Linked DNA regions of Homo sapiens. The protein of the gene in region 2 purifies or fractionates together with the protein of the main gene of each other region. This does not show direct contact. Each region holds a gene or a part of one and is shown on either strand. Other genes may lie near its edges. The genes, in order: NPEPPS, GBP1 and STK38.

Region 1 (3,656 bases), on a different chromosome or scaffold from region 2:
GGGAGGCTGAGGTGGGTGGATCATGAGGTCAGAAGTTTGAGACCAGCCTGGACAACATGGTGAAACCCCGTCTCTACAAAAAAATACAAAAATTAGCCGGGCGTGGTGGCACATGCCTGTAATCCCAGCTACTCGGGAAGCTGAGACAGGAGAATTGCTTGAACTCGGGAAGCGGAGGAGCGGAGGTTGCGGTGAGCTGAGATCACGCCATTGCACTCCAGCCGGGGTGACACAGCGAGACCCTGTCTTTAAAAAAAAAAAAAAAGTTGACTAATCTGAATGGAAATATTTCTAAAATACATTATCTTTTTATGCTTTGCAATTCCTCATAGTGTAGGTTTGTTTCATTGTTTTTTTTAAATACTGAACTTTATTTTGAACATCTCTCATTGACCCCAAACTATGTACTATAATTTATCAGTTTCATATCTGTTTTTTTTTTTCTTTTTTTTTTCTTTTTGAGACGGAGTTTCGCTCTGTTGCCCAGGCTGGAGTGCAGTGGCACAATCTCGGCTCACTGCAACCTCCGCCTCCCAGGTTCAGGCAGTTCTCCTGCTTCAGCCTCCCTAGTAGCTGGGATTACAGGCATGCACCACCACGCCTGGCTAATTTTGTATTTTTAGTAGAGACAGGGTTTCACCATGTTGGCCAGGCTGGTCTTGAACTCCTGACCTCAGGTGATCTGCCTGCCTCCGCCTGCCAAAGTGCTGGGATTACAAGTGTGAGCCACCGCGCCTAGCCATATCTGTTCTTTTTTTTTTTTTTTTTTTTTTTGAGACAGAGTCTCACTCTGTTGCCTAGGCCAGGCTGGAGTGTGCAGTGGTGCGATCTCGGCTCACTGCAACCTCCACTTCCCTAGTTCAAGGGATTCTTCTGCCTCAGCCTCCCTAGTAGCTAGGATTACAGGTGCATGCCACCACACCTGGCTAATTTTTGTATTTTTCTAGAGACCAGGTTTCGCCATGTTAGCTAGGCTGGTCTCAAACACCCGACCTCAGGTGATCCGCCTGCCTCTGCCTCCTAAAGTGCTGGGATTACAGGCATGAACCACCGCGCCTAGTCCATATCTGTTTTCTTTTTTTTTTTTTTTTTTTTGGAGACAGAGTCTTGCTCTGTCGCCAAGGCCGGAGTGCAGTGGCGTGATCTCAGCTCACTGCAACCTCCGCCTCCCGGGTTTAAGCGATTCTCCTGCCTCATCCTCCCAAGTAGCTGGGACTACAGGCACCTGCCATCATGCCAGGCTAATTTTTGAATTTTTAGTAGAGAAGGGGTTTCACCATATTGGCCAGGCTGGTCTCGAACTCCTGACCTTGTGATCCACCCGCCTCGGCCTCCCAAAGTGCTGGGATTACAGGCCTGAGCCACCGCACCCGGCCAGCCTGTATCTGTTCTTTAAAGTTGTTTTGTTTTCCTTACTCTCATGTTCTTCTTGCTGCTTATTGTGCCTTGTTGCTGCCTGTTGTGCAATTTCTTCCCTCTTGTATTTTACTGAACTTCATCTGAAGAAGCCTTAGTAGCCAGATAAACAAGCTTGTTTGGGCTAAAAAATCAATTGCTGTGTGAGAGTTTGTTGGATTCTCTTCTGAGTAAAGGGTATGCGTTTTATTGTACGGACTTTGTATCACCTATTTTGGCTTTTCATCTAGGCCTTTTTTTTTTTTTTTTCTTTTTTCTTTTTAGCCTCCTGGTTCTAGATACAACTGATACTCTGATACAACCTGGGTAAATGTGGTCTTGAGTAGTAAATTATCTGTGAAGCTTCTCCGAACTTTGCCACATAAATGAGCCTGCTCTTATTGTGAAGTAAATCTTACTCTAATCTGTATGTGAGTCAGTGGGAAATATCTGAGCCTTCGGATGGCTTTTGTTAACTGAGATTAGTTCTCTAGATTTTAGTGATTTCGTTTTGAACACCATACAAGTATGTGGTCCTTGGTTTATTTGGTCACTTGTAATCTCTTTAAAATTTTATTTTAAATTAGGAAATATTTTAGAAATACAAGAAAGTCACACACTATGAGATTAAACAGATGTTAACGTTTTGCCCCATTTTCATCAGACTGTGCATGCTTTTTTTGGGGGGGGAATAAAATGTCACAGATATCACTAAAGCCCATTTCCATCTCGTCCCACCCTGCCTCTAGAAGTAACTTCTTTCTTCAGGTAGGTGCGTATTATTCCTTTTTATTCCTATGTATAGTTTAAAACTTTAATTGCATATTAGTAGCCACAAACATCACATACCAATATTCTGTGCCTTTTGCATTTTTACATTAATGGTAATTATTTTTGACCTTCTGCAAGTGGCTCTTTTCAATGTTTCTTGTTAGAAAACTTGGCTCAACTTGAGTTTACTAATTATCTGCTTCTTCTTGTCTTTAGCTATTATAGAACTGTTCCACCAAGGCAACAATTATTGCTATTTTAATGGTGAAATCAGTTTTATTAGGCAAATTGACTCAGGCTTCAGACTGGCATTTGGAATTGTCACACTGGAGATTTTCTTTTACTGAAATCTCAGGACATTGACAATCAGAAAAAAACCCTCTTGAGTCTTACTATCTTACATGTAAGATATGTTCCTGAGTGACTGTAGTAAAGACTCATTCAGGAAAATGTTATCTCCGATTTCTGCCTCCCTATCTCATAGGAAACTTCCATTGTAAAGTTGTTACCAGGCGTCAAGCTGCCTCTTTGGTACAGCCCTTACTTAGTATTTGGCTCAGTTGAAGTGCAGTCTATATAGGAGGCCAAGAAGACTTAATCCTGGGTTTGAAACAAAGCAAGGATACACTAACATTCTATCCTTTAATAACATCAAGTAGAAAAATTGAAAATGAGCTTGTTATCAGTGCACTTTTATATGCCAACCTTGTTTCACTTGTGTTTTAAACTGGGAAACTGAAGATTTTAATGCTGAAATTTCTTTGAATTATTACCTGTTTTTTTGATAGTGGAACACACAGCTAATATTTACTAACATGAAGGTGTCAAAGGTGGGAAATCATGTACTACACCATCAGGTCAGCACTACTGTTTGGAAGAGCAGCATCACAATGAGCAGTGTTATACTGCGTTGTAGTCAGCACATACACTTATGTCCAAACAGATATTTTAAATTACCTTCTTGGGGTAGTACACATGTGCTGATATCCAAAGTGCCATATAATACAATACATAGTTTTTAAACTTCATATCATTCTGATCAGAAGCTTTATAAACTGTTAGGTGAATGCTGTTAGATGATATGAGAGCACAATTTAACCTGTGTGTGTGTATGTGTATGTCTTAACATCTATTAAGTGATGACTACATATGAAGCACTAAGTGCTAAAACAGAGACTTTACATAGATTATCCCATTATTGGTCAACTTTTTAAATAAGTGCATCTCTAATATAAGACAAGATGCTGACCAATTTTTAAAATGTGAATGGATTTCTATTTTTAAGATAAGTACCTTTGTTCCTTTGGTTCCTCCCTCCCACCCTTCCAGAAATGGTAGTATCCTGGAAAAAAAAAATTAGTAACAATTCAAGAAACAGCTTAATTCATTAGTATAAATAGATGAGTTTCCCTTAAACACAGGAGGAGTTGGAAGGTACTTGTAATTGGATGTTGTGCATGGTGCCTTTCCAAAATGCACAAATACTTTCT
Region 2 (3,656 bases):
TAATGCTAATAGGAACATGGGTGTCTGAATATCTGTTCAAGTCCCTGCTTTCACTTCTTTTGGGAATATACCCAGAAGGGGAATTGCTGGCTCATGCAGTCATTGCATGTTAACTTTTTTTAAGAAATCACTATACCATTTTCCACAGTGACTGTACCGTTTTACATTCTCAACAGAAATGCACAAGGGTTCTAATTTCTCTACATCCTCACCAACATTTTTTATTTTCAGTGGTTTTTTTTTTTTATAGTGGCCATACGAATGGAAGTTAAGTAGTATCTCGTTGTGGTTTTGATTTTGATTTCCGTAATGACTAGTGATGTTGAGCATCTTTTCACGTGCTTATTGGCCACTTGTATATCTTCTTTGGGAGAATGTCTATTCAAGTCCATTGTTCATTTATTAATCTGGTTGTTTATTTCTGTTGCTTTGTAAATTTTTTTATATTTTCTAGATATCAATCCCTTATCATATACATGTTTAGAAACCATTTTCTTACATTCCGTGTGTTGCCTTTTTTAACTCTGTTGATAGTGTCCGTTAATACACAAAAGTTTTAAATTTTGCTGAAGTCCCACTAATCTATTTTTTCTTTTATTGTCTATAGTTTTGGTTTCTTATTCAAAAAATAATTTCCAAATCCAATATTATAAAACTTTTACCCTTTATTTTCTTCTACAACTTTTATAGTTTCAACTCTAATGTTTGGTTCTTTGATCCATTTTGAGTTCATATTTGTAAGTTATAAGGTAATAGCCCAACTTTTTAAGGAGATATATCATTTCCTCAACATCATTTGTTAAAGAGACTCTCCTTTCTTCATTAAATGATCTTGACACCCATACTGGAAATCATTTGACCATATATATCAGAGTTTATTCATGGGCTGTCTTTTCTATTCTATTGGTTTATATGTCAGTCTTTATACCAGTACCACACATGGTTTTGTAATACGTTTCACAACTCAGAAACTGTGAGACTCCAACTTTGCTCTTCCTTTTTATTTTTATAATTAGGGGATCTCTGGAAATTTCATATGAAATTTATGGTGGATTTTTCTATTTATACAAAGTAATTGGAATGTTGGTAGGGATTATATCAAACCTGTACATCACTTTGGGTAGTAGTGACATCTTAAGAATATTAAGTCTTCCAATCCATAAACACAGGATGTCTTTCTAATAACTTATGTCATCTATAATTTCTTTAAAGGGTGTTTGAAGTTTTCACTCTACAAGTCTTCCACCTGCTTGGTTAAGCTGATTCCTAAGTAGTTTATTCTTTTGATGCTGTTAAATTGGATTGTTTCCAAAATTTCCTTTTCTATTTTTTACACTAGCAACTGATTTCTCCATATTGACTTTGCATGCTGCAACTTTGATGAATTGTTTTAATAGTTCTAATAGTTTTTTGTGGGATAGTTAATGTTTTCTACAAATTAGATACTATCATCAGCAGACAGAGATAATTTTACTTTTTCATTACCAATTAGGATGCCTCCTTTATGCTTCTCTTGTCTAATTACTCTGGATAGGACTTGCAGTGTTCTGTGGAATGCAATTGACAAAAGTAGGCATCCTTTTCTTGTTCATGATGTTATAGGAAAAGCTATGACGTTTCATCATTAAATGTGAAGTTAGCTGTGGGTTTTTAATACATGGCATTTATTATGTTGAGGTGCTGTCTTTCTATTTCTACTTTGTTGATTATTTTTATCATGAAAGCCTCCTGAATGTTTCCATGCATTGGATATTCAAATTTCCTATTTCTTTGATTGTAAGTACGTAAGGTGAATACTGATTGTTGTTTCAGTTCTCTCTCTTAACCTTAAATATACTACTTTTTCCTTCAATTGCCAGAACTGCCTGTTACTAAATCCCCATCGCTGGTCTCCTCTCTCCCTTGCAGGCTTCTCTCTGGGCTCCACGGTGCAGTCTCACACTAAAGGAATCTGGATGTGGTGTGTGCCCCACCCCAAGAAGCCAGGCCACATCCTAGTTCTGCTGGACACCGAGGGTCTGGGAGATGTAGAGAAGGTGAGACTCAAGGATCCAGTTGTGGAGTAAGCCCCTCCTCTCTGAATATTTTATGCAGCGGTTAATTGTTTATTAACTATTAACTACAGGCTGTAATATGTGTGGGTTAACACAGATGCATAAAGGGAGCACAAATAATCCCAGTGTCATAAGTCTTATCCTGCACAGAACTTTAGTTAAGAATTTGGGTGCTAAAGCCATGTGACTTTGTATTTAAATTTAAATTCTGTCACTAATTCAGTAGCCTGAGAAAATTGACTTATTTTCGCCTCAGCATTCTAATCTTTAAAATGTATGGAAAAGACCTATGTTGGCCATATAGTATTATTTTGAATATTTAATAAGATAATACATTACAGGTGTATATTAATTATTCAATAAAATAGCAACTAATAGTACCAATCTTATATGTGAATTCTGTTATTGAAAAAAAGAAGAGAAAATTTTAAATTTACATTGTACTCAGGCCTTAAAATGCCCACCAACCTTGAATTTTAATTTTACAATTATCTGTTGATGATCATTAGAAGACCTAGTAAGAATCATGGTAACCCAAAAACACTCGTCGAAAAACTACCCAAAAGCCACATCCTACTGAGAATAATTTTTGTATTTGTCTTCCTTTAATAGGTCATTAGTGTTAAAAAAAAAAAAAAAAAAGAAAAGAAAAAAAAACCCTCTAACATATGAACATAGTTTTACTACTGTTACTCTGAAAAGTGCTGCGATGATGAAACTTGCTCCTGACTCCAGTGTGTCTTGACTTCCAGGGTGACAACCAGAATGACTCCTGGATCTTCGCCCTGGCCGTCCTCCTGAGCAGCACCTTCGTGTACAATAGCATAGGAACCATCAACCAGCAGGCTATGGACCAACTGTAGTATCCTTTTGTGACCCAGAACAGCACCAAGGTCAGAGGGGACACCTGTATTCATACACCAGCTGCCTGACTGTGAATCCTGATGAATCAAGCTCAAAAGGAGAAAACAAAAAATAATGCAAGTACAGAGGAGAGATCCCATGTATCCACTTTAGAACTGACACTGACACTTAGGTTAGGAGCAAAGGAAAATGGAAGGTTTGGGTATGTGTTGAACTAACATGGGATGAGGTCCCTGTTCATTTTGTCACATTTCCTTAGTTAGCTACTCAGCTATGTGACAGAGCTGACACATAGAATCCGATCAAAATCCTCACCTGATGAGAATGAGAATGAGGTTGAGGATTCAGCTGACTTTGTGAGCTTCTTCCCAGACTTTGTGTGGACACTGAGAGATTTCTCCCTGGACTTGGAAGCAGATGGACAACCCCTCACACCAGATGAGTACCTGACATACTCCCTGAAGCTGAAGAAAGGTAACAGAGAGCTTCAACTGATAAATGAGGATGAGAAAACACAAGAAATTATCATTTTTCAGTTTACTATTGCTAGTTTTCCAGCATTTGCAGTTTTCTATGTCTTCAGCTGGCTATTCCTAGAAATTAATACTTGCTGAATATCCAAATTAATAGATGTTATTTTAAATTACATTTGTCATTGTTCTAGAACAAGTTTCTTGTTCTTTCACCTTTGTGTATGCTGTGATTAGGTTAATTTTATCTCCCTGCCTAGGGTTTGTG
Region 3 (3,656 bases), on a different chromosome or scaffold from region 2:
GGCTTAGCCATCTTGAAGAAGCATGCATTGGTTTTGTGCTAGATAAAAGATGGAAGTAGACCAGTGCAAATTCATCACCATTTTGGGGTAGGGCTGACAAAGTAGAGGTACAGAGGCAAAATTGTTTTTTTGTTTGCTTTTACTAAATAAACTGGGTAGGAATTAAAGCTACCCACTGAGAGTTCAGGTTATTTTTCTGCTCCACGTGGTGGAAATTTTTGCTACCTGGAAAAATTTAAAGGGTAAGACATGACATCTAACTAGCTTCTGATGTTTCTCTTCCAGTGCAAAAGGAAAACCTTCAGTTGTGATGCCAGTATACAGTTATTGATGGGACAAAAAACTGGCTTTTATTTCTGCTTTCTTAGGGCACAGGATAGCAACTAGCACCCCCCACCTTATTAAATATTTATGGAATAGGGGAAAGAGAACCTTTTTGTATAAATTGCACCTCAGACTCTTCCCTCCCTTAATCTATATTCAGCCAACTCCACTTTCAAACCATGAGGTTTCTTGCTACTGTTTCAGCCTCAAGAGAAAGGCAAGGTGTGCTCATGGTAGCTTTCCCCTTGACAAACAGGAAATGTTATGGGCACCATTGTGTCCTCCAGGGTGAGTGACAAGTGGTAATTGTAGTGCCTCTCCTTTTCTCTGGCTCCCTGCAGTAGGTAGGGAGCTTAATGGGAGCCAGGGGAGACAGGCAGATGAAGGCTGCCTTCTACTGTATTAATGTCTTGTAGTGACTGGGTCCTAGCCATGGCTGTGGGGCAGCAAGCAATGTTACTGTTTCCCAAAAGCTTTGCTTCTGTATTAAGGTCAAGTAAAGGCAGATGCTTTACTTGGTTTCATTGTGTTTCATAGCACTGTTTCTTTTCACCCTTATTGTCCATTTTTTCCCACCCCAATACCATAAGTACAGATGTAAAGATGTAGGTTTTCTGTACAGTTGCAGCTTTTAAAAAAATTCCCCAAAGAATGATTTTAGTAGATACTGAAAACTCAAATACATAAAGTCAAATGCCTCTGGGCCTCCAAGAGTTAGCATAGAAGCCTGAAGCAAGTTAGATATAAGACCAGGGGAGAGGGTGTTGAAATGGAAGAGTAATGGAAGAGTGCCTTGTCTCCCTAAAGACATGTCAATAAAACAAGCATCATATCAAACATTGTATTAAACCAAACAACAGCCATGGACTAAATTTGCCAACAGCCATGGACTAAATTTGCCAATTTGTGAACCTTGGTACATGTTTTACTTCAGAACATGTTGTAAAAAGTCAAGACCTGTAGCATATGTTAAGACCAAAACCACTATTCAGGGATTGGACTGAGTCTTAATAAATTTAGATCTGAATCAACCCAATTTAGACCTTGTGACACTTAAAAAAGAGGGGAGGGGCCAGGCATGGTGGCACACACCTATAATCCTAGCTACTTAGGAGGCTGAGGCAGGAGGATCACTTTAGACCAGGAGTTTGAGGCTTCAGTGAGCTATGATCACGCCACTGCACTCTAGCCGGAGTGACAGAGCGAGACCCCATCTTGTTTTAAAAAAAGTGTGTGTGGGGGGGATTTGATAATATGCAGTGATGTTTGATTACTGTTCTGCATTTAAAGTAAATAAGGTAAATTTGATAATAAAGCATTGCTTTAACAAAATAATTCCGGTTCTCTGAAACTTTCTACAACTTGGTCCTTTATAGGTATTTCAGTAAAAGTATAAAATTGGAAATGTCATTAATTTGAATCTACAACTTTTCATAGGTGTTCTTGTATTTCAATTCAGTAAGGATTGATTGAGCACATAGCAGTGAACTAAATGCTGTGGTATCATAGCATTCTAGAATTTGTCAGTGAGCTCACTGTTGTTGCAGATACTAGTGCAGACCCGAGGAAGAACTTGGAAGAGAGTCTCACTTTGGGGACTTATTTTTATCATAAAAGATTATTAGACAAAACTCTATGCAAAAGAGTAGTAATTTTAACTAATCAGAGATTCAGTTTATAGCAGTGTTAAAGTTGCTATTTGCATTAAAGCCATTCATTTTGCCATTTTTTAAAGCCTTTCATCACTCAAGTTTTCATCACTGAATACCTTGAAGTCAAATGTTGTCAATTTTGAGTTAGTAGGTTTGCCTAAGCAGAAATTGGATCTTTTATATCATCACGATTAAATACTCAAAACAGTATTTAAGCACAGTATTTAAATTGTTTAAGCAAATATACAATCTAATAAAGCAGAGCAAGCTTTGTCATTAATCAAATGCATATACCTCCAGGTTGGCCACATTCGTGCGGAGCGTGACATTCTAGTGGAGGCAGACAGTTTGTGGGTTGTGAAAATGTTCTATAGTTTTCAGGATAAGCTAAACCTCTACCTAATCATGGAGTTCCTGCCTGGAGGTAATTACTTGACGATGAAAGGTCATTTTTTCTTTTTGTTCTGTGGTTTCTTTCTCTCACATCACGATTAACCCTCCTTTCTACTTTTAAATGTGCTCACAAAGTTGCTTTCTATATCCTTTTTTAGGTCTATAAAGGAAGTCAGTAACCTGTCTTGTGCTGGGGTGCCTTTCTACAATCTTAGTACCATAAAAGTAACCTGTTAATTCATTTACATGATTTCAGATGGACATTTCTTTCTTTTCTTCTTCTTTTTAAAATATATAGGAATAAATTAGGGTGCTCTGCCTGCTCTCCTGTCAATGGGAATCATATATGATCAATAACCCAAGTGACAACATTGAAGCTATAACATCCTTTGCTCCAAATTTTTGTTTCTTTTTGTATAACATATTAATAAGGAGTGAATTTTTTGTTACCCATATTAGTAGCCAGAAAAAATTTCTCATTTCTGAAATTTTAAGTTTTATGTAACTCAGCATGAGCATCTCCTAAGACAGCTCCAAAGTAAACCCAGAACAGAACATGCCATCTGTTCTGAGGAAAGCAGTCTGTTTGTCAGTGAGCAGATGAACTCTGAGCAAACTCTGGTGGGAAAAAAAAAGAGAGAGAACTTTTTTCTTTTTTGTTCCTATAATTGTGGCATAATATTTTGATTTTGTGACAACCCTTAGATTTAGGGTCATCAATACTTTTTAATAAAGAAACACATTTAATAAAAAATAAACAGTTGATTAATGTTAGAAAAGAGTCTGGTAGAATGAGGAGAAACTTTTTTAACATTTAGATGCTAGTTCTTAAATAAGAGTAAGAGCCAACTTGGTTACCAGCTCCTAACGTGTCCTCAAGCCTCAACCTGTACCATCTTCCGTAGCTTCTCATGTCTCCTGGACCCTGCCCTTTGCACTTGGTGGAGCTGGCCTGCAGAGCCATAGAGCATCTGGCCTGAGCTCTCCAATCATCTGGGCAAACTTGCACAGGCGAGGCCCCATTGACTGCTCTCCTGAGCCACAGAACTAAGGCCGTATAGCTACCTTACTGGGGTAGCAGCCCAAGTGCACTGTCTCCATGTGTCTGGTGGGTCTCCAGATTGAAGGGCTGCCAGGAGTGATTAGGAAATCATATTTTTTAAGTATTGGACTGAAAAAGAGCACTTTAATAAATGGTTTAATTTTTGCCTGAGGGAAAAATAGCTACTTTTCTCCAATAATACAAAACATAATGTTCTAAATGAAATGAAACTGAAAAAGCAGCAT

Evidence for each region.
Region 1: the proteins of GBP1 (region 2) and NPEPPS fractionate together in Homo sapiens (co-fractionation; one large-scale study listed by BioGRID). This does not show direct contact.
Region 3: the proteins of GBP1 (region 2) and STK38 fractionate together in Homo sapiens (co-fractionation; one large-scale study listed by BioGRID). This does not show direct contact.

The regions. Positions count from the first base shown.
Region 1 is NC_000017.11:47,537,452-47,541,107, forward strand, and holds part of NPEPPS (puromycin-sensitive aminopeptidase), read left to right. Parts: intron 1-3,656. UniProt on the Homo sapiens protein: Aminopeptidase with broad substrate specificity for several peptides. Involved in proteolytic events essential for cell growth and viability. May act as regulator of neuropeptide activity.
Region 2 is NC_000001.11:89,058,577-89,062,232, reverse strand, and holds part of GBP1 (guanylate-binding protein 1), read left to right. Parts: intron 1-1,908; coding exon 1,909-2,036; intron 2,037-2,806; coding exon 2,807-2,916; intron 2,917-3,189; coding exon 3,190-3,392; intron 3,393-3,656.
Region 3 is NC_000006.12:36,516,461-36,520,116, reverse strand, and holds part of STK38 (serine/threonine-protein kinase 38), read left to right. Parts: intron 1-2,276; coding exon 2,277-2,400; intron 2,401-3,656. UniProt on the Homo sapiens protein: Serine/threonine-protein kinase that acts as a negative regulator of MAP3K1/2 signaling. Converts MAP3K2 from its phosphorylated form to its non-phosphorylated form and inhibits autophosphorylation of MAP3K2.